3 linked regions of the Homo sapiens genome follow. The protein of the gene in region 1 binds, or shares a complex with, the protein of each later gene. Each region holds a gene or a part of one and is shown in the gene's direction. Other genes may lie near its edges. The genes, in order: FRS2, NTRK2 and FGFR1.

What was found.
Region 2: the proteins of FRS2 (region 1) and NTRK2 are in contact, whole or in part, in an NMR structure (PDB 2MFQ), measured with the Homo sapiens proteins. Residues at the interface, in NP_001036020.1 of Homo sapiens: Val26, Asp27, Asp28, Asp29, Gly30, Tyr59, Leu60, Cys61, Leu62, Arg63, Arg64, Tyr65, Gly66, Tyr67, Asp68, Ser69, Asn70, Leu71, Phe72, Ser73, Gly77, Arg78, Ile86, Ala88, Lys90, Phe98, Gln102, Met105, Gln106, Ser109; in NP_001018074.1 of Homo sapiens: Pro498, Asp499, Val501, Ile503, Gly504, Met505, Thr506, Lys507, Ile508, Pro509, Val510, Ile511, Glu512, Asn513, Pro514, Gln515, Tyr516, Gly518, Ile519.
Region 3: the proteins of FRS2 (region 1) and FGFR1 are in contact, whole or in part, in an NMR structure (PDB 1XR0), measured with the Homo sapiens proteins. Residues at the interface, in NP_001036020.1 of Homo sapiens: Asn25, Val26, Asp27, Asp28, Leu33, Leu47, Thr49, Arg50, Asp53, Ser54, Val55, Trp57, Leu60, Cys61, Leu62, Arg63, Arg64, Tyr65, Gly66, Tyr67, Asp68, Ser69, Leu71, Ser73, Phe74, Gln81, Thr82, Ile86, Phe87, Ala88; in NP_075598.2 of Homo sapiens: His409, Ser410, Gln411, Met412, Ala413, Val414, His415, Lys416, Leu417, Ala418, Lys419, Ser420, Ile421, Pro422, Leu423, Arg424, Arg425, Gln426, Val427, Thr428, Val429, Ser430.

What each region holds. Positions count from the first base shown.
Region 1 is NC_000012.12:69,464,481-69,474,881, forward strand, and holds the start of FRS2 (fibroblast growth factor receptor substrate 2), read left to right. Parts: upstream 1-5,907; 5' UTR 5,908-6,050; intron 6,051-6,208; exon of another isoform or gene 6,209-6,226; intron 6,227-6,312; exon of another isoform or gene 6,313-9,728; intron 9,729-10,401. UniProt on the Homo sapiens protein: Adapter protein that links activated FGR and NGF receptors to downstream signaling pathways.
Region 2 is NC_000009.12:84,671,443-84,681,775, forward strand, and holds part of NTRK2 (BDNF/NT-3 growth factors receptor isoform a precursor), read left to right. Parts: intron 1-648; exon of another isoform or gene 649-729; intron 730-10,333. UniProt on the Homo sapiens protein: Receptor tyrosine kinase involved in the development and the maturation of the central and the peripheral nervous systems through regulation of neuron survival, proliferation, migration, differentiation, and synapse formation and plasticity.
Region 3 is NC_000008.11:38,464,357-38,475,563, reverse strand, and holds the start of FGFR1 (fibroblast growth factor receptor 1 isoform 1 precursor), read left to right. Parts: upstream 1-6,928; 5' UTR 6,929-7,583; intron 7,584-7,839; exon of another isoform or gene 7,840-7,892; intron 7,893-11,207. UniProt on the Homo sapiens protein: Tyrosine-protein kinase that acts as a cell-surface receptor for fibroblast growth factors and plays an essential role in the regulation of embryonic development, cell proliferation, differentiation and migration.

The sequences.
Region 1 (10,401 bases):
GAACTCTCACAAAAATCCTGTGAAGTGGGTATTATTATTATTGTAATTTTTATAGTGAAGAGATAGAGGTTGGAGATTAGCTGTCTTGTATGAGCTGGGTCGCACAGCCAGCAAGTGATGAAACTGAGATGTGTCACTGGCAGTCTGACTTCAGATTCTGCATAGGAAAGAGGAAGGGAGTAGAGCCAGTCTGTGGTTTAAGATTTTTATTTGATTTAATAGTTGGTATATACACTTTTGTCTAACTGGAAGGTGACTAAAGGCATCTGGGTCTGGTTGATGTGCTGGTTGAAAATTACTATTATTATGAGGATGATTATTATAGTATTTAGTAATTATGCAGTGCTTTATACTTCAAAGAGCTATGCTGTGTAATCATTTATTAGCTATGTCTCACAACATCTCTAAGATATAAAGATGCATTTATCATGCATATTTTGCAGAAAGAGAAGCTGAGGCAAGGTAAGATGGGCAGTGTTTTGATAAAAAAGGAGTAAGAGTGGAAGGCAACCTCTTAAATTCCTGATACTACGTAATTCAATGTGGACAACAGAAATTTAATTAATTTAAGCCTTTTAAAGAAAAGTGCCAGTTCCAGTACTTTTTCATGATATTTAGTTAAAAATTAAATGTAAAATATACCAAAGGTTGATGAGCATTCCCTTTTAAGTTCTCTATTTTTGAACTTTCTCTGCATTTGTGTCAATGTGACATTTTTGCTCAAATTCAACCTTGACATCTCCCATTTCTCCACGCAAGCAGGATTTGACTAGAGATACTGGTTTTCACTGTCAGTATTATATGGCTTCAAATTTCTTCCGTTGTTTGTGAAACCACGTGCATAGGATTCGTTATGATAACTTTCAACAGAAACAAACTTCATGCAAGAACTATATGGGAATTAAAAGAAGTTTTAGACATGTGGCAGTTTGTCCATTTCAAAAATGATTATAAACATGTCAATATGAGGGGTGGGAGAGGGAAAAGGATCTATGTGGGTTTATTATAGTGACCTGTAAAAGGCCTGGAAGAGATTTATACATTCTTCTATAAATCTGGTTGTCTCTTTCAGTTGGGAGGCAGTCATGGCCATGGCACATAGAAAAGGATCAATAAATATTAGTTTAGTGGTTATGAGTGTGTCTCTGGGGACAGACTGCTTGGATTCTAATCCTGACCTCATCATTTGCTAGCTACCTGAACTAGCTTTGCTTGTGTCTCCATCCAGGAAAAAATAAATTAAAAAAATATATATATACCCTATAGGGTCGTTTGTCATCAAATCTATTTAAGTAATTGCTATTATTCATTTTTTGTCTTTCCAAGGCTGTTGACAAATAACATTAGCTACAACTCCATTAAAACGTTGGTGGTAATGATATTTATAATTTGATGTCTGCACTTGCCTTGCTTGTTTAGAAATGGTACAACGTGGCCAGGCATGGTGGCTTACACCTGTAATCCCAGCACTTTGGGAGGCTGAGGCGGGCATATCACCTGAAGTCAGAAGTTCTAGACCAGCCTGGCCCAACATGGTGAAACCCGGTCTCTACTAAAAATACAAAAATTAACCGGGCATGGTAGTGGGCACCTGTAATCCCAGCTACTCGGGAGACTGAGGCAGGAGAATCACTTGAACTTGAGAGGCGGAGGTTGCGGTGAGCTGAGATCGTGCCACTGCACTCCAGGCTGGGTGACAGAATGAAACTCTGTCTCAAAAAAAAAAAAAAAAAAGTACAGTGTAGTACCCCACAATTGCTATCCCAGAAAAACAATTTAAAATTACCTCAAAATACATTGAATAGTTATGAGCACATGTAAAATATATAAGGCAAAATTCTATACTTGTTTCTTTAAAACATCCATATGATGTTTTGGGACCAGTGGTCCCAAACTCTGTCTACCATAAAGATACCACATGTGGGTAAGGCCAACTCATTGCACTGTTTGATGAAGAGAGATGCTGCATCTAGCTAAAGTCACTGATGCCTTGTGGATGCATGCCAGATGTCTGCCAGAGTGTTTAAATTTTCAAGGGATGCCAGAAATTGGGATTTTTTTTTACATGACATTTCTCAATTTTAAAATTTTGACTCAATTTATTTCATGGTACAAAACTCTCTGGATCAAACAATACATTTGTCAAATCTTTGCCATAAATATTTACACTAATACATATGTACTAGTTACACTGTGCTGTTATTCAAAGCAAATGTTTTTGAGGCATGAATAAAAGATGAGGAAGACAAAATATAAAAAGGTCTTCAGAAACTCACAAGTCTAGTGGGGAGATAGGCAACAATGTCACAGAAAAGAGTGAAAAGTGTCACAGTAGAGTGTGGAAGTTAGAACTTAAGCTGTGTGGTTAGGATCAGATCTGCATTAAACCAACAAACAAAATCAAAGAACCCCATTATTTCAAAGCTTGGCAAAGGGTGGACACCCAAGTAGATGGCTCTTTTGTTTAACAAAACACCTTAATGGATTTTGGGGGTAGGAGCTATGCATAGACAGGGCCACAGCCTTGCACAGTTCCAGGGGGCATCATTTGTGTTTGTCACCTCTTGAGCATCATTCATGTTGTATTCTTTGTGAATAGCACCCCCTGGAATTGCACAACATGGTAATTGTGTCAATAAAGGTGGCCTGGAGTCTGGCCTGAGATGAGGATTGAGAGTTAAATCCTTCTACATAATAAAGTAAAAGGAATTTTAAGTCTTTCCTAGTGGGTAGAGGCAGGCGGGTAGAGGGATGCCTGGAATGGACAGAAGAAAAGGGTTAGGAGAAAAGACATCTCTAAGATGAGGATGGGCCAGCAATTTGGCAACAACCTGGAGCCGAATGAGCCTGGTGAGAGATTGCTTGTAATTTTTGCAAGAGATGCATACAATCCTCTGTCATCTTCTACCTCCAGGAGACACTGGTAAATGAAGTCAAACAACTTTTTCTTTGGCACTCTTCTTTATGAATCAGGAGATAATTGGGAAAGACTTCACCGTCCAGAATCACACAGCAACACTTGCCTAAACATACAATGCCTTAATAACTTGCCTTTTTACTGTTTTTCTTTAAAAAGCTGAAAGTGCTTACACTTTCATTTCCTCATTTGTTCTGACATTCCAGTGTGGGTGGGGCAGATTTATGATAACATTATTTATAGATGGAGAAATCGAAATAGAGATTAAATCGCTTAATCAATGTTGCATAGCTGGGGCAGTGGAGCCCACAGTGGAATTTGGTTCTCCAGGCTCCAGCCACGAAGTGGAAAGAACATGAGTTTTGGAATTAGAGGGATCTTTGCACAATCCTGATTCTGCCCCTTAACAAGAATGTGGCCTTAAGTCAATTACTTCACCTAAGTCTCAGTTATCCTCATCTCTAAAATTAAGACCATAAAACCTCATAGCAATGTAGTGAAGATTAATTTAGAAAACGCGTGTAAAGCCTTGGCATAGAGTAATTCCCAAATAATATTAGTTCCACCCCCAACCCAGTATTATCTGGTTACATTTCAGTACAAATTTAAAGTAATCAAAATGAATCCTCCATTATAGTAATTTTTTTTCTAGCCTCATCTTCTTTCACTGAGAGCAAAACATGAATAAAAATCCTTCAATAGGTCATTTAATTCAACGGCAAGAACTTTTGCTCCGGTAAGAGTTATCCCTGTTGGAAAAAATTAGAAAAAAAGAGGAATATGTGGAAGACAAGATATTAGTTCTTAATATCTTATGCAGTGGTTCTTAAACTTGACAGTATATCAGAATCTCCTGGAGGGCCTGTTAAAACACAGATTGCTGGGTCCCACCCCAGAGCTTCTGATTCATAAGATCTGGGGCGGGACCCAGTAATGTGCATCTGTAACAAGTTCACAGATGATGTTGAGAGGCTTAGTCCAGGGACTTCTAGGGGTGGGGCCCAGCAATCTGTTTTAACAAGCCCTTTAGGTGGTTCTGATGCACTCTCAAATTTGAGAACCACTGGGATAGTGGTGAAAAGCATCTGAGAATATGGTCTGCAAATTCAAACCCAGGCGGCTCCATTTACCAGTTAGATGACCAGATTAAATGACTAACCTCTAGCACCTCTGCATCCCACACAGAGCCTGATAATATCTGTGATTCAGGATTCCTCTCACTATCCCTTTAGGCCTTGAGTAAAAAGAGATGTCGGTGAGTCCTGCCAACCCACGCTGTTTTTTACTTCTTCACACTCTGAGGCACAAAAGGCTGCTTGAATTTGAGTATTACGGAAGTATTTGCCAACACTTCTGCGATCACAAAAATAAAGTAAGAAAGCCCTGTAAATAAAGCCAAGAGCAGTGGCATTGTTTGCATCTTAAATTTGTAATAATGGGTTTTCAACTTTTTTCCTTTCCCCTGCCTTTCATAGTAGAAACATTTAAAAATCTTCCCCGCCACCCCCCCCCCCCCCAGTTTCAAGAGATGTTAGTACATTTGTTTTGCAGATAGTATGCATTGCTAAGAGGCTTTTTTTTCTTTCCCTGCATCCCAGATACAGAATCTGCCTCAGATATCTGGTGCCTTTCTGATTTTGTGGCTGAGGAATCCCACGCCCTCCTCCTTTCCATCCCTTTTCCCTGTCTGGTATGTAACTCTGTGGGTCCTCATATTATCACTGCATGGAGCTTCACAAGCACCTGTATTTTTCCAGTTGTAAAAACCCCTACTCTTTCTTTTTTTTTTTTTTTTTTTTTTTGAGACGGAGTCTCGCTCTGTCGCCCAGGCCGGACTGCGGACTGCAGTGGCGCAATCTCGGCTCACTGCAAGCTCCGCTTCCCGGGTTCACGCCATTCTCCTGCCTCAGCCTCCCGAGTAGCTGGGACTACAGGCGCCCGCCACCGCGCCCGGCTAATTTTTTGTATTTTTAGTAGAGACGGGGTTTCACCTTGTTAGCCAGGATGGTCTCGATCTCCTGACCTCATGATCCACCCGCCTCGGCCTCCCAAAGTGCTGGGATTACAGGCGTGAGCCACCGCGCCCGGCCAACCCCTACTCTTTCTTATTTCCTTAACTAATCTTTTCTATTGCCTATTGCTGATGAGGTATAAGAATCGTTAACTTTTATCCAATGCCAGACATTCTGAAATGTTTATCATGCATTATCATTTTGGATTCCTACAATGCAGAGATGATTTTATAACTTGCCAGGGTGAAAAAATAAAAGTAAATAAAAGGAGACAAGCAAAAAGATTCCAGATCCCCACCCCAACCCCCCCAACCCCCCAACCCCAGCTCTCGCCTCTGTTGAAGTCACCAGTGATGACAGAATATAGGAATATAGTTTGAGCCCTGTTTTTAAATAATTTCAAAATCTTGGTATAGGTAGATGAGATTTATACACACGTGAATTAAAATCAACCAACATTTGTGAGATTGGGTTTGGTATCTTTGACCGTTTTTCTCCCCTGCAAGACGTAGATAATAGCACCAACCCCAAGGAGTTTGGGGATGATTAAATAAGTTAATGCACCCGAAGGGACTTAATACAGTGCCTACCACGTAGTAAGCGTTCAATAAATGTTAACTATTATCATTATTTTTTAAAGGAGGCAGATTGGAGCGTAGAGTACACTGAAGGGAGTCGGGAGGCCGGGTGTAGGCACTGGATTCTTGCACCTAATTCTCCGAGCCTCGGTTTCCTTATTTGTAAAATTAGCTGGCTGGAGTAAAACAACTCAAACAGCAGTTAAAGCAAAGGGTGCAGCAGTAGCCGGGGAATCGAGGAGGCGCGGGGCGGAAAGGGTTAGTTAGGAGCCCAGAGGCTGATCTGTGGGCGCCCGGCGAGAGAGGCCCCGCCCCGCCCTGGAGGCCCTGGCAGCTCCGGGCTGAGAGCAGTTCCGGTGCCAAAACCCTTCCCTCCCCCGCTCCCCCGGAAGTGCTTTTCCAAGATTCGGGCCGGAGAGAGGCCTTGTAGGCACAGCGGCTGAGACTCGATCTGCTCCAAGTAGGGGCTCCAGCGCGGGTCGGAGTCTGGGGGTTCGCGCCCGCCGACCCGCGCCCTGCTCCCTCTCAGCACCTGGGCGGACGGTGAGTGGCTAGGGAAACGGACTGGGACGGCCGCGGGCCCGCGTCGGAGCTGGCGTTCTCGTGCCCCCGCTGCCCGCTTCGGGATCCGGGCTGAGGGCTCGGCTGCCGGCGTCCGGGGAAGGGGATTGTCGACCGCCGCGGACTTCTCCGGGCCAGCGGGACGGGAAGAGCTGGCTGTGGGTCCATGGGGTGGGCGGGGCGGAGCCAGGGAGGGGGTTCCCAGAGCTGTTGTTGCTGTTGGGACTCGAGAGTGGGGATGGGCTGGGCCTCTGTTCGTCCGTCCGACCCCCCTCATGTGTGCTGCCCCAAACCTCGCCGCTCCCTAGTTTGGTATTCTGTGTCCGGCCTGGGGTAGTAGCTGGACACCAGACTCAATCTTGGGCTCCAGTTCCCGACTTTTCGCCTCCTCTGGGTCTGTCCTGGGGTCAGTAATTAACCCGGGTCCCAGGGGTGTCGTCTTTTCCCTCCAGGGTGGGGCGCTGCCTGTACATGCCAGGGATCTTTTGCAGGGCTTTTCATCCAGATTTGCTTCAGGGTTGTCCGGGATCGATTTGGACTGGGCTCGGAACCGGTCCTGGATACGTAGGTCGCTGTGGCACCAGCATGCTCTGTATCATCTTTACTCACTTGAAAGCTTGCTGAAGCTGTTGTTGAAGTAAACTTAAAGAAAAAACTTGCTTAAGGAAAATCAGTAGTTTAGACACCCCCTCCCCCGCCTTTTTTTGCAGACATACTAAAAAAAAAAAGATGCTTTTCTCTAATCTACACTCTTAATTCTTTTGGCTATCTGATGTCACAGTTGTATGATGAGTTCATTCAGAGGCTGTACGAATTGATTTTAAAGAGTTGGACAGTTATATCCTTTCTCCCAAAGTTTGTTTACCTTCATATTTGGAACTGTCATTTTTCTTAAGGAAAAATTGTTCTTGGATTTTCTTGAGAGATTCCTTACACTGTTAAAATTGTTGCTGCAATGCAGAGTTTCACACAGGTGGGCAGAGATGTTTTGTTTAAACTTATTCCATGAAGTGTTTACTTCGGATAAACTGAGGATTTCCTAGGGGAGAAAGTGATGTAGGTAGGTTTAGTGAACAGATTTTAGGTAGTAAACTTTACTGCTGAAAGGTTTGTAGGAAATATGGGTTTTCCACAATAAATGGTGATTTAAAAACTTTTTATAAGGGAATGCAGTTACTGCAGATTATTGCTATTAGCAGATGGCCACTGTTTTTGCAGCGTAAAGTATTCACAAATCACCTTCTTGAAACCAGTGACGCTATCTGCAACTCTCATCTTGTGTGTAGATTAGGGTTTATTCTGTAGTTTTTTGGGTACTTATGTCATTCTCTTTCCTCCCACCCCTGAAAGGGGAGGTGGTATCATGAATCAGGAAAAATAGACTGAAGTGACAAGTTCAGTGAGCTTTTCCTATGCAAAGGAAAATTTATTTCAAGGTTGTTGATTTTGAACAGGCAAAGGGTAGATGATTTTTAAAGTCCTTGGAAAAAATTGTGGAGAGATTAGCTGCACAACTTTTCTTTTTCCTCTTCCTTTCTTTTCTTTTTTCTTTCTTTTCGAGACAGCCTCATTCTGCTGCCCAGGCTGCAGCACAGTGGCCCCATCATAGCTCACTGCAGCCTCCAACTCCTGGACTCAAGCAGTCCTTCTGTCTCAGACTCCTGAGTGGCTAGGACTATAGGCACCAACCACCACACCTGGCTAATTTTTTTTTTTTTTTTTTTTGTAGAGCCGAGGTTTCACTATGTTGCCCAGGCTGGTCTTGAACTCCTGGGCTCAAGTGATCCTCCCATCTCGGCCTTCCAAAGTGCTGGGATTACAGTTGTGAGCCACCATCCCCAGCATATTTGCACAACTTTTAAATTTAGATAGAAACTGTAGCTTCTTCCACATGTGAAGTACTTAATTATTTAGAGCATAAGATTGGAATATTGGAATTGAGAGAATCTGGAAAAATAGTTAAGTTAGATGTAGTTACAGATTTGCAGGTATGACAATGTATTTTTAAGGGAAATACTTCAAGAGTTTTAAGAGCAGAGAAAGGTGATTGGGGAAAATCAGATACTGATTGTATTTTTATATTATACAAGTCAATTCAACAAACACTGAGCATTTGCTATGCATGTTATGCTATGTTATGCATAGCATGCTATTTGCTATGCTATGTTAGGTAACTATGTAAGGAGCAAATAAAGGTATAGCCATAACAGTTGAGTTTCATGTTTTGGTAATAATTTCTGAAATCATGAAGAGTTGAGTTGTATTCTTTAGGCATACTAACAATTTTTTTTGTAATTGGGACTTAACATTGGCGATGGGTGTTGAGTGCTTCATGAAAAGCGCTATACTAGGCATTTTAGGATATAAAGATTAAACTTTTGGTTTTTAGGAATTTGAAATCTAGAAGGGGATATAAGATTTGTGTAAACATTTACAACATAAACATTTGTAAATACTTATGGGTGGTTTGAGGTAAAGTTTGGAGTAAATTATACAAAAGAAGAAAGGGTTCATTTTTAGCTTAAGTAATGGAAATTTGTGGAGATAGCTCAGAAGCTACTGTTTATTGAGCATTTACTGAACAGACTTAATGCTAGTTGCTGTTTACAGCATTTTCTTAGCTTCACAGCAATATGTAAGTACCTTAATAATGAGGACAGTGAGGCTCAAATATGTTAAGTTACTTGCCTGGGCTATGTGGCTAGCATGTAACAGCCCCAATTTGAATCCAAATCTGTCTGGTGCCAAAGCCTGTGTGTTTCTACTGCATCATGTTGCTCCCCAATAAACTGGTAACCTGAGTTTAATGTTACAGAGAATAAGACTTTTCTAAGACAAAGATTTATGGATTGGGAGTAGGTGGGTGAAGAAGGCCTTTCAAATAAAGAGAATGATGTGAGCAGAAGTGTGGAGGTGGGAAAGTTCATTGTGTACTTGGAGAAAAGTTAGTGGACCAGATTACCTGGAATATACTGTTCATTTTTGGGAATTAGAGATGAGGTTTGAATTTTAAGTGGGGGCAGGATTGTGGAGCATGTTTAAGTGCTGCTTTTAGAAGTTTGACATTTGGGGAAAAAAAGTTCGACGTTTGGGAGGTAATGAGAAGTTACCAAGGTCTAATAGAGTAGTGTGCAGAATGATTTGATGTGGAAAGCTGACTTTCAATGTAGTATAAATACTGGGCAAGGGCAGTGGTAATGGAATTAGAGTGAAGGCTCTGCAGGACCTCAATGTCGTAGGTGGGTGGCGAGGAGGAGGGGTTTTTGGAGCAGGTTTGGAGGAGATGGAAGGTGAAGATTACACTTTTGTTTTTGAGACAGAGTCTAGCTTTGTTGCCAGGCTGGAGTGCGGTGGCGTGATCTTGGCTCACTGCAACCTCCGCCTCCTGGGTTCAAGTGATTGTCCTGCTTCATCTTCCCGAATAGCTGGGACTACAGGTGCTCACCACCACGCCCAGCTAACTTTTGTATTTTTAGTAGAGACGGGGTTTCACCATGTTGACCAGGATGGTCTCGATCTCTTGACCTCGTGATCCGCCTGCCTCAGCCTCCCAAAGTGCTGGGATTACAGGTGTGAGCCACTGCGCCCAGCTGAAGATTACACTTTTTAAGTGTCGGAGATGTTGACGGTGGTACTCTTACTAGAAATACGGGCAAGGAGGTACGTAATGAGATCAGTTTTGGATTTGTTGACTTTTTTGTATACTTGCCAAACGCTGGAAATGTCCAAAGGCTTTTGGAAATGTGGATTTGTGGTTAAGGGGAGAGGTCAGGACTAGGCATATATTAAACATGGGTTTAGTGAATAATACAAATAGGTGTACTGGTTGAATCTGTGTAAGAAGATGAAAGTGCCAAGGGAGAATGTAGAGGGGAAAGAAAAAAAAAACTTCTGTTTTAAATGGCATCTGTTTAAAACAGAAGGAAATATGCTAAGTGATTTATTTTATGCAGTGGGTAAAGAATTTGATAGTATGTCCACTGCTTCTTCACACTGTAGGTTCACACGGAGTAGAAAGAATCTGATCATTAAAAATCCAATTGGGAAATACAGTTTTCTTGCCCTGGGTAGCAAGAATACTATGCTATCTTTACCCTGTTTCAGGGAGGACAAACTACTTCAGACTCATTTCATCCAGAGTGTCAGATTTGGTTACTTAAAAGCTATGTTAGCTTGTTTCTTTTGGACATTTGTTTGGCAAGTGGTATGTGAGGAGTTGGAAGCAAATCTCTGATACAGTATTTCACTTATTTATGTGTATGACATCGATTTTGGTTTCAAAATCAAGAACCTCTGAATATTCAAAGATAATATTTACATCTCATTAAGGCTG
Region 2 (10,333 bases), on another chromosome or scaffold:
TTAACCAATTTCCCTTTTCATTTTATATATCGGATTTTGCTTAGGAGATGGCATCCAGAGATGGCCTTGAAAATGATCTGTAAGAGGAGAAGTTCTGAGTGTTGAAATGCACTCGCTCAAAAGAAAAAAATATGATAGTTGGAAGCCTAAAAGCCTGGTCTAATTTAATTTGGACTTGACTTCCCAGAGATATGATTTTGAGACCACTTGGATTATAACTCTTAATTGCCCATTGAATAATTTCCCAGGACTAGGTTGGATGATAAAGCACTGGGTAGAACTCTGATGAAGGCTGGCTTTAGCATTGGACCTCTGTGTCCCTGGAAATGTTTGAGCTTGTTGTGGCTTGAAGAAACAGAACTGTGTATTTCTATTCTCCTTTTCTGATGCTTTGTGACAAATGCATCACCAAGCAAGAACTTGCCAGTCCTTTCTCTAGCATTCCTGTGTCACCTCTACTGGACTGTTATTGTTATCATTTTTTTCCTGAAGGATGCTGTCATTCCATACATCTCATTAACATGAGATTTTATTCGTATACGTGGAAGATTGTAAGGCAAAGTTTCTCCCAGTTTTCCTTATTGTGTTTGATACTGAGATAGGCAGCCCTAAAGTGGGGCTTGGGCTGTGGCCTTCCGGTTGTCGAGTGCGCATGCATTTTTCCTTCCACAGAAAACATACAACCATGTTTCTGCCAACGTAGTTGACCAAGATAACCTGTTTTTTAATGTAAGTAAGAGACCTTCCTAGTCTCTGTTGCCTGTTCTGCTGCTGATGCTTATGGTGTAAGCCTCAGGCAAAAGGAAATGACAGCAGAGCAGAGGGGAATGTTCAGGCCTAGCATAGCTGAGATGTGTCGGGAGCAGCCAACTGTCGGGCTGAGTCCAGGGTGCTAGGATCTCTATCTTTTTGGCAAGGAGAGCAGGAGCCAAGAGCGGAGAGCAAGGGTGGATAGGGCCCCAACTGTGGTGGTCTTGGACTGGGCTGGTTGAGGCTTACCAGGCTGGTCCAAAGTCTGTGGCCTTTTGTCAGAATCTTTTTCATGAGATGGGGTGTCAGTAGTTAGATGGAGAAGGCCATATGGAATTCAGAGTGCTTCTGACTGTTTTGAGATTATGGGGAGTGCCTTCCACAGTCAGATATTGTTGTGTGTGTGTGGTGGTGCTTTTAAAATTCTGTTTTAGGTGATAGATGCATATAATGAAGAAAGAAAGAAGATAGGGCTGATCATTTTCACTTTGTTTTTCTGTTTGATAATTTTAAGGCCATGATCTGAGAAAAAGGAAATAAAACTATCTTTAAATCTAAAAAATTATTATTTCAGACCTTCCTGATCTTAGCTGCCTGATGTATATGAAATCAATTGATTTCAGCAGAGCTTTCTTATATCTGTCCTCACAATTGTTGTTGCTTCTTTTATATCTGATGGCAGGTTCCTATTTTCAGCTTTTTTAAAGTAGATTTTAAAAATATTTACAAAAGCATGTGTCATAGTTATTCATTCAATCGTGGCACTTCTAATTTCTACTCTAACTTTTTTCCCTTTTGATTTGAAAACCTCTTGGGGTTGTGGGATTGGAGAGGTATATAGGGCTAAGTGTTGAGAACAGGGAATTAGGTTAGTAATATTAGTCTGGCTGGGTAGATGTGAGTCCTGAGACAAAGTATGTTTCTCTGCTCTATCTCAGCTTTGTGTGAGCCCAGCCAGTTTGTGCCCCAGTGCCTTTGTCTGTAACTCGTATGACAATACTTCTTTGGAAAGTACTCCATATAATTATTTTGAATTCTGCTTTTTTGACCTAAAAATGACATCAGTGGATGCGCTTGTTTCACTCGCATCCTTATATGACACCATCTATGTTCTTTTTCTTACATATTAATATTTGCTTGCACAGCTTTTAAATTCTTGTCCAGTGGATACCAGCTACAGTTGGAACCAAATTATACATATTTTAAAACTTTGTTGTTAGGCCCAGTGGTATTCCTAAAATAACCTGTTGTAAAGTTCTGGTTTAGTGGTATGTAGCTGAAGTTACGTGCGTCTATTTTTTAAAAATAGAAATAATGTGGTGAATAAACTGTGATTAGCAACACACAACTTGCTGAAACAACGGTTTACCATATCATTCAAAAATGGTGTATCTTTTAGCATCTATATATTAAACCATCATGCCCTTAGGGTTCTAAGAACACAAATAGTGGGACATTAAAAAAAATGTGTAGATTAACCAAGAGGTAGGATCTTTTTGTTTTGTTTTGTTTTTACATGCATGCTTTCAGCTAAGCTGACATTTTGTCTTCAGAGTCATTGAACCTATTTTATTAAAAATCTTCCCATCACAGTACCTGTTTTATATTTTTTGCCCACTAATGTGACATAACTAGATCAATATCTATCTATAGGTATGTATCACGCCTGCTCAACATCACACTGCTAAGTGGCAGCTCCTGTTATTTGGAAATGGTTATACCACAGCAGTGTTAAAATGAATTTAAACGCAGTACCAATGTCACATGCAATGGAATTCAAGAGTGAAGCCTGTTGTTGGAATTATGTAACTGGCCGTTTAAATCCCAGTTGTATTAAGTGCCAAAGTGCATTGCAAAGGACAAGTTCTGTTTCACCCAAGTGGTAAAAGGCACAGTCAAAAGAAGTCGTGCATTTTTTTAGCTGTGGTAAAAAAAAAATACATAACCTAAAATGTACCATCTTACAGTTCAGTAGTGTTCTGTGTATCCATGTTGCTGTGGAAGGGCATGCATTTTTATGTTGCACGTGCTTTATGAAGACTAATAGGGATCTTTTTTTTGAATTTCTCCAGTGGTATTCTCTGATTTGGGGGTAATATTTGAGAACAGCCTTATATTTTTCCTCTTAGCACAACCTAAATAGAATTTGGAGCTTCTCCTATGACAGACTCTATGTGCAATTTATTGTTGGCCTGGTTAAGCAGCTGTAATGTTGTGTCATTAATACATTGATTTTGGCCCTCTTACTTTAATAAGCTTTGCCATTGCAATTAATTGTACTTAAAAAAAAATCCTGGCATTCACAAAGATTCAGTGAAAGGCATCAATTTTTATTACTCTGATGTTTACTTCTCAGCCCCTCCATTGGGGGTTTTAGAACTTTGGACTGTGTCTTATATGCATTTAAGAGCCATGTATTTAAATTTGGAGCACGGTTACATAAGCCACACTAGACTTGTTAATGAATAAGGCAGTCTAATTTACATCATTCATTATTTAATACAACTTGCAAGCTGGAGTTGAGAACATGCTGTCTTCATAGTGTAGGTATTTACAGACATCAGCTTGGCACAACTGTGTGGAGTCTTTTTAGTTTCATACCTTCAATCTCTGCAATATGGACACTTTTGTTACCCTGGGTAAAACAGTGGAAAAGCCTTGTGACCCTTTTGACCCTACTTTCTTCCACCTCCCCTTCCATCACCCATTATTTATACAGGAAAATGGGTTTGATTTTTTTCTTCTCTGAAAAGTGATATTTCCTTATGGGAATTCAGAATGCTGGAGTTAAGAGAAGAGCCTGGGCTGTATGTTATTACAAGCAAGTATTGGGAAGTTGAAGCAATGTGGTCCCAGTTCCCTAGTGTGGAGTTTAGGTCTGTTTAAGGTCTCTCACTGTTTCTATCCCATAAACCTCTGTTTGTGTCTGCTTCAATATTCCCTTATAAAGGTGTTTTCTAAGCTGAAGAGTTGGCTGAACAGCTGAGAGTTGAGGTCTCTTTCTCCCTAGTAATATTCTGTATGATCTCTTTGACTATATCTAGGTCATAGGAGTATAAAAACTAGTGTTTTTGTTTAGCTGGGGAAGGGGAATTGAATTTCTTTTCTCTTCTCCTTTCTTTCTTTCTTTCCTTTTTTTTTTTTTTTTTTTTTTTTTTTGCCTTGAGTGTTAAGCAAGTGCATCCAGTTTTAACTCATTGGTCATCTTGCCTGCTAGGGAAAAAAACATTATCAAACCATTATTGAATACCATAAACTGGCCTTATCCCTCTGGCTAACTTTACCACTTCTCTAGAGAGTTTCTTGTAGGTTCAAAAGCTATAGCGTAGGATGTGACATGAAAGACCTGCCCCTTGGAACAATGCCAATTTTTAGTTGCTTCTGATGCCTGTAATCAATAGGAGGATTTGGGGGAGAGACTATTGAAGCATGGCAAAGTTTTTACTTGTTTGATGTGTGTTTGTGAGAGAGAGAGAGAAAGATAGAGGGAAGAAAAAAAACCCTGAATCTTGGATTATTTATGGTTGATCAATCATTTTTATAGTCTACTTGGTTGAGCTATTTTAAAACAAATCCCACCTCAAGCCTCAAATGGCAAAGATCTGAGCTCCACTGTGGCCTGATAATTTTAGCTCACATTTGATTGCTGATCAATCTCCATTAGAAAAGTAAAGGTCCCATATAACTGGGTGCCTTCTCACCACTTACTTTGCTCTCTGGGGTGTCCAAAGGACTGGGAAGTTATAAATATTGATCTGGGAGATGGATGAGTGAATGTGCTCAAAGTTACAAAAATCTTGCAAAGAAAAGCAATGTGTAGATACTAAGTTTATTCCTTATGTGTTTCAAAAAATAAAAATAAAAAAGCATATCATGGAAAGCTGAAGTCAGGAGACCTGGAACTTCATCCCAATGTCACCACTACCCAGTCACTACCCAGTTACCTGATCTTGAAGCAGCCTTTTAATGTTTCTGGGCCTCAGCTTGTCACATGTAAACTGAGGGCTTTGGATTTGATGCTCAGACAAGTTTCTCAAGGCTCTGAAGTTCCCTGAAGCCTCGGTCACGGAGATAAGGAAGTGTATACATCAGCTGTGAAGGAAGGGCATGATACAAGGTGCTCGGGGTCTGGCAGTGTGTGAATCTGAAGACCTTTGGTGTCAGAGTGTTATGTGGAAATGTTTTCAGTGTCTGCTCTGAACTCCCTCAAACCATGTCTTTTTAAATGTGAGCTGCTAACAAGGCTAGTGGCATGTTAGTACTGGTCTGATGAGTCCAAGGTCACAGGGTCAGTGTTCAGATGGGTCACTTAGAATCGGAACCTCAGAAAGAGAAAGGGCTTTAGAAATGATCTGCTTCAGCCTCTTCTTTGCAAAAATCAAGGGCAGTGAAGAAAGTTGCCGAAGGCCGACTCATTAACAGCATTGTGGGAACTAGAAGCTCCTTCTCCTAGCATCCAAATGAATGCTGGGGGCCTTTGCTTTAGGGTGCCTCCCCTCCGTTCTGTGTTCTCAAACAGACCGCCTAATTCTGGCTCATCATTTTATTAGGTTGGTGCGAAAGTAACTGTGGTTTTTGCCATTACTTTTGCACCAACCTAATAGAACCACCATAAATGGGGAGACAAGTTTAACATGGCTAAGTCTGTGCAAACTCATCTCTGTGAGAGACCAAGTAATTGAAAAGTGCATGAGCTACTGATCTGAAAGCAATCATCTTATCTTCATATAGGAAGAAATATATTTTCTGTTTAGCTTACTGTGTGTGAGTGTGTGTGTGTGTGTGTGTGTTAAATTTGAAGTGTTCCTCTTCTTTAGGCAATTCATACACAAAAAATTTGAGCTTCAGAGAAAAGCCTTCATGAGTTGGCAGCAATGAGGTATGCTAACCTTGGGCCTGCTGGGCCATCTTTGCAGATTGGCATTAGAAGAGGGGCAGAGCAGACAGAGTGAAATGAAACCTGTTGCCCCTGGAGTCTTTGCCACAGTCGGGGGTGCTTATGTAAGTGGAGAAACCCGCAGCCCTTTCGATGAGGTCTGTGTTAGCTGCCCTGAAAGACCTGTGGCCAGAGAGTACTTATTATTCCCCGACTTCTTTCTTCCCCCTGACTTCTCAATGCCTCAAGATTGATGACTAGTCTCAGTGGCTGAGCCAGTGAGCAAACTTCAGGATTATTGGCTCCCATCCAAAATTCATCCAGCTACCATTTTATGTGTTGTTCGTGTTCTGCTCTGAGACCTTTCCAGGAAAAGCACCCTTCTGAGACATATTTTTGGTTGCATGAAGATTTGCTCCCATGGGACGTGAAGGGCCCTTTACAGACATCTGCTTATTTAGGTTTACAGCCTCACTCTGAAGAAGGTGGGGAGGTTTTGGCAGCCTCTGAGGGGCTGTGAGGTTTATTAGTTTGCCTGGGCCCCTTGGTAAAGCAGAGCATAATTTAGGGGTAGGATCCTATCTAATGTCTCATTTAGGGCTCTGTCTACTCCAACCTTGGTGCCCAAATTTGACCTCGAGAGCCAAGGCAATTCTAGGAGAGGTCTAGAGATTTGAATTCATGTTCACAGATTAAACTTCATGCAGTGGGAAGGAGGTGGGCTGGTGCTTCATCCTCTGTCTTCCCCACCCCTATCCTCTTCTCCTGTTCAGCTCCTGAGCAGTCTGATATATATTGTGAAGAGATAAATGATTTGGTTGCCTTTGGTAATATGGCATCTTCTTGTACAAAATAAAACTGTTAATAATCACACACCATTTAGAGTTCCTTTTTTTATGTCAAATAAGGACAAATTGCTACTTAGCATCCCATCCTTTCCTGTAATCTTCATATCCCAAGAATTGTCTACACACACACACATAGACACACACCATAATGTTGTATGTGTGTACCGTGTTTTCATCAATACATAAATCTGTGTATAAAACTCTGCCATGTGTAATTTGTTCAACTTAATTATCTTGAGTTGTAAAATTTTCTGAATAATTGAGAATGTGCTTCCCTAAACCACTATTTTAATTTTGTTTTTATCATTCTGGATGTCCCTTGGCCAGGATCTGGTTGGGCTGTCTTCTTTGAGAGAAGTACTTGAGCATTAGTGCATTGACCCTGTTAGCCGACCTGGTCACTCAGAGACCCACTGTGTCTATCTTCTGATTCTTTGATATCTTCTCAACATAAACGAACAATGTAAACAAAATTGAAAGGTATCGGAATTTTGGTTTCAACCTCTGCAATATAGTGCAATTTAAAAAGAAAGGATCTTCTCAACGCTAATCTTTGTAACAAGAGTTGTTTCTACTTCATGTACCCCAGAGTCCCTTGCTGTGAGGTGGCAGAGGGGCCTATGCCTGAATTGTCTGACTCTTGCTCACTGTGTGGCAAGTGACCTCTCTTTTCTGGGCTTGGCTTATTCCTCTGTGTGATGCATGTGTAGGGGTGGAGGGTGCTGGGCAAGAGAGCTTGACATCATAGCCCCTAGATTCCCTGGTAAGGTGTGACAAAAAAACACACAACTATGGTGAAACAAAACAAAACAAAACAAGTGTCTTTCTCCAAAGAACAAAACAAAACCCCAAACCAGAACACTCTTTTTAGTTTACTCCCAATTTTACTTCAAAACCCTGCTGCTACCACCCAAACTCAAAGAATGTTATAGATGATATTGCTCCTTGGTTATTTCTTGTGTGCGTCTGGTGCTATGGCTTGAATGTTTGTATTCTGCCAAAATTCATGTGTTGAAACTCAGTCACCAGGGTAGTGGTGTTGAGAGGTGGGAGTTGATTAGGACATAAAGGCAAAATGGGATTGGTGCCCTTATAAAAGAGACTCCAGAGAGCTTGTTTGTCCTTCCTGCCATGTGAGGACACACATAGAAGGTGCCATTTATGAGGAATGGGCCCTCACCAGATATGAAACCTCCCAGAACCTTGATCTTAGACTTCTCAGCCTCTAAAACTGTGAGCAATACATTTCTGTTGTTATAAATTACCCAGTCTAAGATATTTTATTTTAGCAGCCCACATGGACTAAGGTACATGGGTTTGGCCTTTCTCTTTGCAACTCTTCAGCCTCTTTCTGTTTCTGGTGGTGTTTCTTATCCCCTTCTCCTCTGTTCCCAAATCACAGACATATATATACAAACAATCATTTGGCTGTAAACCCCCTTTAATGGATTGTAAAGAAATCTTGACTTGTGTACTTTTTTCTGGTGGACGACCTGTGGGCAGACCATCATTGTTTCAACTGAACCTGGCTTGGTAAGGTTAACACAGTGGGAAAGGCGACAAAGTATAGGAACGTGGTATAACTGAAAGGAGCGCTGGTTAGGGATCTAGGATTTTGGATACCCACTCTCTGACAGTATCAGGGTCTGGGATTTTGGTTGAGCCACTTGACCTCACCAGCCTGACTGATTTCATCTTGAACCTGGAGGCTGTGACACTCATGCATGCTACTCCTTGAAAGACTCTGTGGTTCTGAATCAGTCAGCCATGAGCACTAGTGTTTCCTTTTCTGTTCAAGAATTCACCATTGCCTTCACTCCAGGGGCAAACAAGAGCCTGCTTCAGTTCTTTTGGTGGCTAAACAGCAGAAACCTGACCAGTAGGTTTTCTTTAAGTCCAGCTCTGCCGTTGAGGCTGGATGGTTTTGCAGGTCACCAGCTTCCTGCCATCCTGGGTGACAGCCCTTCCATGGTTTCCCACCAATAGAAACAAATTTTTATTTTTTTCCCTGGGAGTAGTGTTCAAGACTTTTTCAGCCCATTCCTGGCCCACTTCTGTGGATGAGGCTCTGGCAAGTTTTCTAACTGACCTCTTTGGTTAGTCTCTGTTTTCTGTGACCCCCAAGAGCAGAAGCTTTCATGGACATCAAATCTTATTTTTCTGCTCATCAAGTTGTCTTTTCATCTTGGTGGAATAGTTTGTCACATTTCCTGATTGTCATGTGGGTGGGCTGCCATCATGCAAAAAGTAGTTCAGTGTCACTAGTGTTATTGAGGACATGGAGATGTCCAACAAACAGGGTACTCTGCAGAGGCAAGGAGCCCCTGAGCAGCTTATATCTAGCAAGAGACAGATGCATACACATCTAAACACTCCCAATAGTGGGAAGCATTGATGTGTAGATGGGATGTGAGTAATTCCCAATCCTTACTTCCTATGGTAGCAGTAATCCAGCTGAGTTTCATTATTTTCTCTCTGTCAAATAATTTTTGATATTCCTGGGGCCACCTCCACTCATACTGCATTAGAGTAAGCTGCAACTTGCATCTGCAACCAGTTACGATGGAAGGGCTGGAGCGCCTTTCAGCTGAAGCTAATCACTCAACCTCGAGCTTTTTTCTATCAGCAATTTTCCCTCTCTCACATACCTGTATTTTCTGTTTCTTTCTATTGTTCCACATTTTAAGATAAGAATTGAAGCAGGTTCATGTTCCTCCCATCTTAGAAAAGTTTTTCTTTAGTGTGATTCCCTCCCTCTCCTTCTGCTCCTGACTAAAGTACCTCTCCCTTCAAAGCCAGATCTTGGAAGAGTGATCTGTATTCATTATGTCTATTTTCCTATCTCTTATACCAGTCCCATTCCACTGTTTTTCAAACTCACTTCACCATAGTCCCCAGAAGCCTTCATGGGCCATATTGCTCTGTCCTTATCTTACTTGACTTCTTAGCAGAACTTGGCTTCATTTCTCACTCCCTCCTTCTTGAAACATCCTTTTCCTTTGGCCTTGGTGTCACCACACTTTTCTTGTTTTCCCTCTATCTCTCTGCATGCTACTTGTTTGCTTTATTTGTCGGTTCCCTTTTCTCTGCTCTTAAAAACAGACCTTAAAAGTTTATGTCCCTTGGGATTCTGTCCTATGGCTGCTTCACTTCCTGGGCTATCTCTGGGCTACATCACCCTCATCCATTACTTATGTTACCTTCTTTGTGCTAATGATGTCCTAATCTGTTTCCCCATCAATTATCAGTGAAGACCTTTGGACTCATGTGTGCAATACCCCTCTCAGATACAGGAGAGTGTGTCACACTTCTTATTTCTAAACAAAATTTTTCATTGTTGCCCCAAACCCATTGCCAGTGTTCCCTATTGTAATGAATGGCACCATTATCCACTCAGTAATACAAGCCACAAACCGTGACTCTTCCTTCTCTGTAACCCCTACACTCATTCACATATTACGTCTTGTCAATCCATTTTCCTAAGTATTTCCTAAATCTAATTTTTAATATTTCCACTGACATTATTCAATCATTCTTTCAACAAATATTGATTGGGGTCTTCTCTATGTTGGGAACTAGCTAGGTACATGGGATATGGTGAGAAAAACTGCCCTGGTCTCTTCTTACCGGGCTTGCAGTGTGTGGGAGTGGGGGATGGGGAACAAACATCTAATAAGTACTTAACATAAAAACAATATAATTCATGCCATCATCATCTTTTGCCTAAAATGCTGCAATCGCTTCCTATTTCGCATCCCCGCCTCCAGTCTTGTCCCCTCTCTGCCCATACGCCACACTGTAGCTGGAGCGGTCTATCTGAAATGCTGATCTTATCCTGTCACTGCTTATAATTACCCTC
Region 3 (11,207 bases), on another chromosome or scaffold:
GATTACAGGCACGCGCCACACCTGTTTCTACTGAAAATACAAAAAGTTAGATGGGCGTGGTGGTGTGTGCCTGTAATCTCAGCTACTCTGGAGGCTGAGGCAGGAGAATCGCTTGAACCCGGAAGGCAGAGGTTGCGGTGAGCTGAGACGGCGCCATTGCACCCCAGATTGGGCAACAAGAGCGAAACTCTGCCTCAAAAAAAAATCACTATATATTATTATTATCATTATTATTATATTTTGCTGATTAGAAAACTAGTACAAGATCAGGGCCAGGGTGCCTTGGAGCACATTGGAGGAAGGCCACTTCCTCTGGGCAGAGGCAGCCGGGCAGTAGCACACAGGATTCCAGCCCAGGGCCTATAAAAAAAACTCCTCTCAAAAAAGTCAAACAATGTAAAGGTACATAAAAAATGGGCCAGGCACAGTGGCTCATACCTGTAATCCTAGAACTTTGGGAGGCCAAGGTGGGAAAATCACTTGAGCCCAGGAGTTCAAGACTAGCCTGGGCAACATAGCTAGACTCTGTCTCTACAAAAAATTAAAAATTTAAAAATTGGCCAGCCATAGTGGCATGGACCTGTAGTCCCAGTTACTTGGGAGGCTGGGGCAGGAGGATCACTTGAGCCCAGGAGTTCAAGGCTCCAGGGAGCTGTGATCACATCACTTCACTCCAGCCTAGGCAACAGAGAGAGGTGGCTCAAAAAAATAGAGCCTGGCTCAAAAAAACAAAACTAAACCGAAGTATAAGCCTCTTACAATCACATTCCCAAAGAAAACCACTATTAAAAATTTGGTTAACTATTTTGTTTTGTTTTGACAGAATAATAAAATTCAGTTAGGGGGAAATTTAACCTGAATGGGAGAACACCATCTATTTTTAAATTATCTTCCTCTCTGACCCTACCCAGCCCAATATCGCCAAAGGTTCTTAACAACCCAGGAGAAGTCAGCTGCAACTTTATTAGCATATCCTTGGATGGAATCCGCATCAAAGTTGAATCCTCAAGTATCTCAGCCTAACCCTGAAACTTTGATCTTTGTACCTAGGCAGGGCAAAGCCTAAGGAACTAGGTCCTTCACTCTTGGGGGTGGAGGGCGGTCCTCAGAAATGCAAATTTTTCACTGTTCTGCCACTGCCTCCTCTGTCACCTCTCCAGACCCCAGCCCTTGGATGAGTGGCTTTAACCAGGAGAGGGTTTACAAGTCTGTGTCAGAAAGAGGAGAGCCTTTGGAGAACCCTGAAGAAACACACAGGACAGAAGACCAGCTTGTTTGCATTTAGTGTTCTGAAGGGAGTCAGAATCCTAGACCAGCGACCATAGCTGGAAGGATTCGCTGAGGTTTAATAGGGCCCCTTAGCTTCCCCATATGTGTTCTTGTTGTTTTTCTCTTATTTCACAGTAAAATCTATAACAAAAAGGGCTGTTTATCTTGGGGTACACCAAGGAAGAGGGAGATGAGGGTGAAAAATATATCCTTTTCTGCAGCTGGTGTTGGGGAACAGAGAATCCAGGGTGGAAGTGGGGGTAGAGATGGTAAATACATAAGAAAGTCACAAAGAAGGCTGGGTGCAGTGGCTCACACCTGTAATCCCTGCACTTTCGGAGGCTGAGGCAAGTGAATGGCTTGAGCCCAGGAGTTCAAGACCATCCTGAGCAACATAAGGAGACTATCACCTCCACAAAAAAATACAAAAACCAACTGGGCATGGTGGTGTATGCCTGTAGTCCCAGCTACTTGGGAAGCTGAAGTGGGAGGATTGCTTAAGCCCAGGAGGTCGAGGCTGCAGTAAGTCAAGATCGTGCCACTGCACTCCAGCCTGGGGGAGTGAGGAACCCTATCTAAAAAAAAAAAAAAAAAAAAAAAAGCCACAAAGATATGCAGGCTCCAGAAGGTGTCTTCCATCAAAGGAAAGTTCCTGGGCTAAAAAATAATAATAACAACAATGACTACCATTTATTGAGCATTTACAATGTTCTGGGCGCTTTGCCAAGTGCATTACACACATTTTCTCATTTAATCCTTTCAACAGTCCTGGGAAGAACAGTTACCATTGTTATCTTCATTTCACCATTGAGCAAATGCAGTGGAGCTAACTAGCTTGCCCAAGATCACACAGCTAGCAATAAGTGGCAGAATCAGGACCCATGCTCAAAACTGTTTGACCCCAGAGACTAAGTTCATCCCTTCAGAGCAAAATAATTCGATGCTTCAGTGACTACCAACTGTCTACCCCCCACCCCCACCCCTCAACACAAACTCTCCAGGCTTGCTTTCCTCAGCTATCCCAGATGAGTTTGTGGATTTTCACATTGCCATCTTTCAAGATTCAGGCATCGCTTCCCCTGAGTCATCTTCCTTCCTGATCTCTCCTTCCACAGCCCCCTGCAGATGCCCCCGGGTGGCACTACGTGTCATGTTTGGTCTCCCCCACAAGACAAGTGAGGTCCCCCAGGCTGTGCACTCATCTCTTTCATCTTCGGATCCACTGTGCCCGGCACAGCGCCTGACACACAAGAAGTGCTCCCTGACACCCCCAGGCTCCGTGAATAGATGTGGCATTCAGGCCAGACAGAGCTGAGCTGCCACACAGCTCGCTCCCTTTCTCACTCCAAATTGGCAGAAGAGAGTGAATGTTATTTACAAAAACACCAAGCCAAATAAGACCCTCCCTTCCCTGACATGCTGAAGCTGCTCTGGGAACAGACAGGGGTCACCAAATGGTGGCCAGATGGTGACTGACTGCTGCTCCCTAACTCCAGGGGCCTGGGGCAAAAGGCTTGGCTGCCCACCTGCTCCCAGGACCTGTGAACCATCCACTTTGTAGGGAAAACCCCAGACAGTTCCCTCCTCCCGAATCCCCTTCTGCAACCAGCTCTCGGAGTGGAGACTCTGCCAGCTCTCACCACATCCTGGGGACTCTTGAAGCCTGGGCTGGAAGTTCTGCAACCTTGCCCCATGTCAATGGTGCTTACTTTACCTGACTTGTTCCATAACAAAGAATTGTTAATTCTGCAGTATCGACCCAGGGTAGTGGGGTGATCATTCCTGGTAGGCACAGCTGAGCCCTAAAATAACAGAACCCAGATAGAGCAGGGGCAGAAGGAATGTGGGGAGAGGGGAAGAGGAGCTCCCGTCTGCCAGGGAAAACTCTGAGGACACAAGTAGCTGGAGGAACAGGGAAGGGATTTCCTACAGTGTTCCCAAACAAAGAGAGCTGGCCGGGCTTTGGGGAGAGCTCCGTTTCCCTTCGTTTCATTCAGCAGTGGTCTCCTCCTCCCACAGATGTGGGAGGCAACAGGCCCCCAACCAGTTATCAGGCCCTCCAGCATGAGGGCCTTTGTCTCCCCTTAGACATGTAGCTGGCAGGGCGAAGGGCCGACAAATCCTCCCTGACCCTCCCAGCTCTTTGTTATCTCAGAGGGAAGGTTACATTTCTGTATGGGAGGCAAGGTGCCAGGAGGCCTCGGGCAGAACAGAGACAGGCAGAGCTGCTGTCTGACCCCTGTTGCCTGGAGCAGCTCAGGGCTGCCCTAGGGACACTCTCCCTCCACTGGCCTGGGGCCCTTCCAGAAATGGGAGGGCTACATTTCAGAAAGAGGGCGAGTAGAGGAGTGGGACAGAAAAGGAGCGAGGTGGGCTGGAAGGATAAAAGCAGCCAACTCTCAATTATTCAGAAACCTGTCTGCAGTGTGTGGACAGCCCATGCCTTTGCTGAGTTTCTCACCTTCTCTGTTCAGCTGCCATCAGCTCTTTCCCTGAGAAGTGGAGGAGGGACCCTGGCAAGTTGGCCACTTGCTTTCATTTTGGCTTCTTGATAAATCTATAGAGGATTTTTCAGCAGCAGGCCCATGTCCCTCAACCCCAAACAAGCATTTAGATCATTATCTTTCTGTTTAAATCAAGAACGCATTATTTAGCCTTTTATTTGGGGTTCAAGATACTCCTACAATGGTTCTAAATCATAAGAAAAAGGGGCTTGATTTAAAACCCCTTGTTTTGGGCCAGGAATGGTGGCTCACGCCTGTAATCCCAGCACTTTGGGAGGCCAAGGTGGGCAGATTACCTGAGGTCAGGAGTTCGAGACCAGCCTGGCCAACATGGTGAAACCCTGTCTCTACTAAAAATACAAAAATTAGCTGGGCATGGTGGCAGGTGTCTGTAATCCCAGCTACTCGGGAGGCTGAGGCAGGAGAATCGCTTGAGCCCAGAAGGCAGAGGTGAGCTGAGTGAGCTGAGATCGTGCCATTGCACTCCAGCCTGGGCAAAAAGAGCAAGACTCCATCTCAGGAAAAAAAAAAAAAAAGAAAACAAAAAAAACCCTTTTTTGAGAAGAATTACGGAGCAAAGTAGAAAAATAGTAGCTGGGTGTTAACATTAAATGCTGGATTTTTTTCATGGCTTGTCTTCCCAATCATATTCCCTCAAATTGTGTTTCCTCCTCTGGTAACCCAGGTTGGTTATGCTTAGCAAGTCCATGAACAATAAATATACATGGAAAACCTCCTGTGTAGAATTGGTCAGACACCTAGATAAGATCCTTGCCCTAAAGCAGTTTAGAAACCAGTTAGAAAGAAAGCAGAGTAAGGAAAACCACTAACAAAGCACGGTATCAACTCAGTGGATAGTCAGCAAGTGAGCAGGGGGTCCAGGGACTGACAAAGCTGGGATGGGCAGGGAAGGCCTCTTGGGGGTAGGGTGTGAGTATGGCCTTCTTACAAGCGTGTGATGTGTAGTAATTAAAATGCAGGAGGCCTAATGGGTGGGCAGCTTACATAGGAGTATAAACCAAGCTTGACCAGGAGCTGAAAGGTTAAATGGTGGCTCTTAGGGGAAAACCCTATAAACAGTGGCTGAAGTTCATTTATTCAACAAAGATATGAGTTCTTGTTTCTCATTTTTTGTTTTGTATTATTTTGTTTTGAGACAGGGTCTTACTCTGTCGCCCAGGCTGGAGTGTAGTGGCTGGATCATAGCTCACTGCAGCCTCAAACTCCTGGGCTCAAGCCATCCTCCTTCTTCAGCCTCCACCTCCAGCTAATTTTTAAAAATATTTTGTAGAGACAAGGGCTCACTTTGTTTCCCAGGCTGGTCTTGAACTTCTGGCTTCAAGTGATCCTCCCGCTTCGGCCACCCAAAGTGCTGGGATTACAGGCGTGAGCTGTAATTTAGTTGTTTATTTACTCATTTGTTCAACAAATACTTATTGAATATTTGCTCTTTGGCCAGTCAAGGGATTTCATGAGTGTCTACTATGTGAATAACACTGTGTTGGCCACTAGTCTGTCACCTACTGGTGGATTAGAAAAATAGCGCGAGGACCATTTTTTCTTTTCTTTTCTTTTTTTTTTTGAGACGGAGTCTTGCTCTGTTGCCAGGCTGGAGTGCAGTGGCACAATCTCGGCTCACTGCAACCTCCGCCTCCCGGGTTCAAGCGATTCCTCTGCCGCAGCCTCCCCAGTAGCTGGGATTACAGGCAAGCGCCACCATGCCTGGCTAATTTTTTTGTATTTTAGTAGAGACGGGGTTTCACCTTGTTGGCAAGGATAGTCTCGATCTCCCGACCTCGTGATCCACCCGCCTCGGCCTCCCAAAGTGCTGGGATTACAGGCATAAGCCACCGCACCCGGCCAACTCTTTTCTTAAATTAGCCAGGGAGGCGTGGGTGGGTTGGGTGAGGAGTTGGGTGGGGGGATCTCATTCAGTATTCAAACTTCTACAAGTTTCGGGGTTGAGGTGGGTGATGGTAAGGGAACAGGCCCTGCCACTACCTTTCATAGTGACTTCCATTTGTGTAATATTTTTGGTCCACTGAGAGCTATTATTTTATTTGATTCTTATGACCATCTTGTGAAGGAGTATCAACAGATACCCCGTTTTGATTTTATCAGATGCATGATTTGTCCTACATCAAACTTCATAAATGATGGACAGAATGGAGGAATCCTTCAGACCAAGTGCTGCCTACTTCCCACCCCAATGGTGGCCTCAGCCTGGGCTCACATCACACGCCCCAAGGAGCCTTGGAAAAAATAAAGGCTCTTGGCTCCTTCCTGGGACAGCGTGATTCCTCATGTCTGAGCAGGCCCATGAACTTGTATTTTTCAGACGTTCCCTAGGACCCGTGTCCATCTGGATTAGGGAACCACTACATTATACCACTTCGCGGGAAGACTCAGGGGGAAGCATTTTAGCCACTTTCCTGTGTTCCACAGTACTGGAGGGTGTTCTGAGTGGGCTGTGATTAATTTCCAAACCAACCACACGTCTCCCCTCAACTCCCACTGCTTACTCTTTGCTTCCTAGACATTCACTGCAGGCTGGAGACTTCTGGAAGCCAACAGCATCGCTGTAGAATTTACAGGGTCCAGTTCCCGGTGGACCACAAAACCTAAATTATGTGGCTGGGGAAAGCTGAAATCCAAGGGAAGGGTTTGAGGAGGGGCTGACCTTATAATAAAACCGGCTTGTATTTACTAAGTGTTAACTATGCGCTAGGCCCTCGTTGACGCCTCAACTCTATGTGAAAAGCACTATTATCCCCCATTTACAGATGGGAAAACAGAGATTTAGAGCGCGAAAATCATTTCCCCAAGGCGCACAGACTCCAAAGCCCACGCTACCAGGTACAACCTCAAGGCTGCGGCGTCTCTTCACCTGCCCCCTAGCCCCCAAACCGCTGCTATGTCTAGGGCCTGACATTCCGGCGCCCTCTGGGACGTGCTCAGATGCAGGGGCGCAAACGCCAAAGGAGACCAGGCTGTAGGAAGAGAAGGGCAGAGCGCCGGACAGCTCGGCCCGCTCCCCGTCCTTTGGGGCCGCGGCTGGGGAACTACAAGGCCCAGCAGGCAGCTGCAGGGGGCGGAGGCGGAGGAGGGACCAGCGCGGGTGGGAGTGAGAGAGCGAGCCCTCGCGCCCCGCCGGCGCATAGCGCTCGGAGCGCTCTTGCGGCCACAGGCGCGGCGTCCTCGGCGGCGGGCGGCAGCTAGCGGGAGCCGGGACGCCGGTGCAGCCGCAGCGCGCGGAGGAACCCGGGTGTGCCGGGAGCTGGGCGGCCACGTCCGGACGGGACCGAGACCCCTCGTAGCGCATTGCGGCGACCTCGCCTTCCCCGGCCGCGAGCGCGCCGCTGCTTGAAAAGCCGCGGAACCCAAGGACTTTTCTCCGGTCCGAGCTCGGGGCGCCCCGCAGGGCGCACGGTACCCGTGCTGCAGTCGGGCACGCCGCGGCGCCGGGGCCTCCGCAGGGCGATGGAGCCCGGTCTGCAAGGAAAGTGAGGCGCCGCCGCTGCGTTCTGGAGGAGGGGGGCACAAGGTCTGGAGACCCCGGGTGGCGGACGGGAGCCCTCCCCCCGCCCCGCCTCCGGGGCACCAGCTCCGGCTCCATTGTTCCCGCCCGGGCTGGAGGCGCCGAGCACCGAGCGCCGCCGGGAGTCGAGCGCCGGCCGCGGAGCTCTTGCGACCCCGCCAGGACCCGAACAGAGCCCGGGGGCGGCGGGCCGGAGCCGGGGACGCGGGCACACGCCCGCTCGCACAAGCCACGGCGGACTCTCCCGAGGCGGAACCTCCACGCCGAGCGAGGTAAGAGCCGCGGCGCCCCCGGATCTGGGGCGGGCTTGGCGTCCCGAGCGGCCCCCGGCGCCGGAGCCTCCCGGCTGCGCGCTTTGCCCGCCGCAGCCCAGCCGGGGCCGGCGCCTCCCTCCGCTCGCCGCCCGCCCCTTTCACCTCCTGGCTCCCTCCCGGGCGATCCGCGCCCCTTGGGTCTCCCCTCCCTTCCCTCCGTCCGCGTCTCCTGCGCCCCCTCCCTGCGCTCGTCCCGCCGCTCTTCCCGCCGCCCAACTTTTCCTCCAACTCGCGCTCGGGAGCTGGCGAGGCGGCGGCGGCTCCTCAGTGAGTCCCGGGAGGGACAGGCCCGGGGCGAAGGCGGCGAGGCCCGCGGTTTCCTGGACTGGGGAGGAGGGCGGGAGTGGGCGGCGAGGTGGGATGCGTTGTGTGTGTTATGTGTGTGTGTTGCATTCCACTCCATGTCTTTTTGGTCCCCTTTTGGGGATTCACCCCCAATTCAGCAGGTAGCTTTGGGCTCAACGCTAAAAATCCGGGGCATTCCTAAGTCCTTTTCCACCCCCGGGAAAGCCTGGGGTGCGGGTTGGGGTCGGATGGGGTGGGAGATGAACTGCGGAGGACGTGGAGGGCTAGGTTAGCTTCTCTTGGAATAGGTTTTAAGGAGGTGTCGTCACCAAATGGCTGAATCTGCTTGAGCTGAGAGCGAAAAACGACTCCCCTTTCCAGAAGGGGTGATCTTATGACTTGGACGGTCTCTGAAAGGGTCGGAAGTTTGGGGAACGGGAGGACAACCCACGGTCGTTAAGCCGAGGTGTGGGATGGGGGCGGAAGGACCGTTCGGTCCCAATCTGGTTCCTAGAGGTGGGGGAAGGGATGAGGGTTTTTGTCCGGTGTGGTTCACTCGGCAGCGATGCGTATGCTTCTCTGGCCCAGACCCCTCTGCACCTCGCTTCCCCTACCGTTATGTTTGGGGTTGGGAGAAAAGTGAGGCTACGACCCATGTTTGCGGAGGAATTTTATGGACCTTGTAGATGGGGGTTCATATAGAACACACACCCCCTATGAGGCAGCCAGACACTTTTTTGGTGGTGGTGGGGGGGGGGTGGGGTGTGAAGCCTGTTTCTTGTTCTGAGCCCAGAAGCTATCAACCCTTTTGAAAAACATTACCACGGTGCCTTTCTCCCCCAGCACTCCCCCACCCCCAATTTCCAGATGTAGCAGCCGCATCTGGTTCCGTTTCACCCCACACGGGTACACCGCAGCCGCATTATTAACTTCCCTCTTCCTCCCCTCCCCCTCCCCCAAATTAAAACTCAGATTCTTCAGCCTGTCTTGACCACCTCCCTCCTTAACATTTCTGGAGACTTGGAGATGCGGCGTTGAGATTCGGGGGAGAAAAGAAAGTTCCCTTGGATCCCGAGTTATTTAAGATCTCACCAAGTTATTCGCCGCCGCTGGTGGGTGGCGGCGGTCCGGGTGCTTTCTGGATTGCGCAGTAAAGAGGCATCTTGGGAGATGGGGCCAAGGTTTTAGGGGGTGCCACTCGCGAACGGTTCATCCGCTAGACTAGGGGGGCTCTTTGGCTGTGCGTCTGGCCAGAACTGGCCTTGACGATGGAAGTTTCTGGAACCAAAGCGTTGCTTTCTCTCCCTTGTGTTATAGCTGGAGCTGCGGGAGCGCCTGCCCTGCCCGGAGCCCGCGGTCCCCTCTCGGCTGCCCCGCGGTGGCGTCACGCGCCCCTCCCGGAGCAAGCCCGGTGCGCAGGGCCGGGGGCGTGGGCGGCTGCTGCCAGAGGCGCTCTCTGTGTGTTTTTAAGGACTGATTTGGGCCGCATCCCCCGGAAACTAAAGTGGGGTGTTTTACCGTTTAAATAACGGCTACAGGTTTGAAAGCGGGGTTGGATTTTCGAGTTGTGTTTGGTAATAGTCTTTGAGGCAGGAAAGCGCCTTGTGGTCCAAAGTTGCCGGGAGGGTGGGGAGAGTCGGTGTCTTACCCGCTTCTTTCCAGCCTCTTTCAAATTGAAAACACTTCTCTGGTTTCCTTCTTTGGGCGGTAGTTTTGGAGGCTGTAATGAAATCGCACTTTCTCTAGACGTGGTAATTAAGGTGACTGTTTCCTCCGCAGATGTGCCCTACCCTTTGCACCTCCGGACCAGCGCTTTTTTTGGAATACTATCTAGCCTTGAGACTGTTTAGCAGAAAGTGGCCATTTTCCTCCCTTGGCCCGGGCTCCCGGTTTCCTCCCTGAGGCTTGTTTAAAAGCGAAGTAGCAGGGCCCCGTGGGACGCGCCTTGGTCTGGGTAATCACCCCCACGCCCGGGTCATCCACCTTCCTCTCGGTGACCGAGGTTCAGCAGCCTCTGCTATTGCCGGCCGTCTTTGCCGATGGCCTGCCTCCCTAATGACTTGTTTACATATCCTACCCCCAGTGGGTTAGGAGAAGCTCCGGGGCTGCCCCGACCCTCCGAGTGCAGGGTGTTTGGGGACCGGGAGGCTGCTGGGGCCTGACTCCAGCTGGGAGGGTTATGAACTGCATCAGTGACGAGCTGCTTGAAATATCTGTTGCATTTACTCTTAGTCATAGCTGAGTGTCAGCTTTTTAATGAGGTTCATCCAGATTGAGAGCCACTTGGACTGCGTACTTCACTGCCTGCTTTTCCAAACATGCCTGCAGAAATGCTCATTTTCGAGGTATTTTTCCCAATGGGAATTCAGGCCAGAGTGGGCACCACTTGAACAATCTTAGGGTGCTTCTTTTCCTTGGCCTCTGGCCATGGAGGGTGTTAGACAGTTCCATTAGGTGGCCCTTTGATAGCAAGGGAAGCAAAGGCTCAGGAAGAAATGGAGAAGCGTCCCCCACTCCCTAGGGGCAGAGGATTAGATACATCGGTGCATCCCTCAGGCTGGGCTAGCTTTATTCCTGGTGGACTCCAGAGGGCAAGAAAATTGAATTGAACACTGGGTAGGCAGATTCAAGCCTTAGAGACCAAGGAAAATCCATGGGTTTTGCTTTTAGTGGTGTGCTCTTTGTTTTCAGTATTGACCTGAAACAAGACTCCTAAAATGAGAGATTTGCTGGTATGAACTTGGGGGTTTAGCAGCCGGCTTCTACAAAGGCTTTTTTCTTGCCTTCGTTTCTAAAGTGTCTTTCGTCAAAATGGCTGTTAGTTATAGAACATCCTAGCAAAGTTTGAGCCTGTTGCTGCTGGAGGAAAAGGAGTTAGAATTGATTCAAATGTCTTATTCTGAAAGGGCCTCACATCACTTGATAGTTTAATTTCCTCCTGGGAAATTTGTGTCTTACATTTGTCTTCCCCAGAGCTTTGTAAAAGGCCTGAACGCACCAGGGACTAGTGGGAGCCCAGATGCAGAGCTTTAGAGAAGATTCTGGTGTTTCCAGAGAGGATGAAATGTCAGACTTGGGCTAGGATATTTGTTTTTCCTCCTAAGGTTGCATCTACTTTAAACAGAAATTCTCTCCTCGCCACCATTTATCTCTCCCCTGCAATGAAAGAAACCATGTTTAGGGCCCTCTCCCCCATTTAATAGCCCTCACATGGATGAACTATCCCAAGAATTTGGTGGGGTTCCACTCATAGTACATCCTGTCTTCAAGAGCAAGGTTTTCTAGATTATGTGCAGC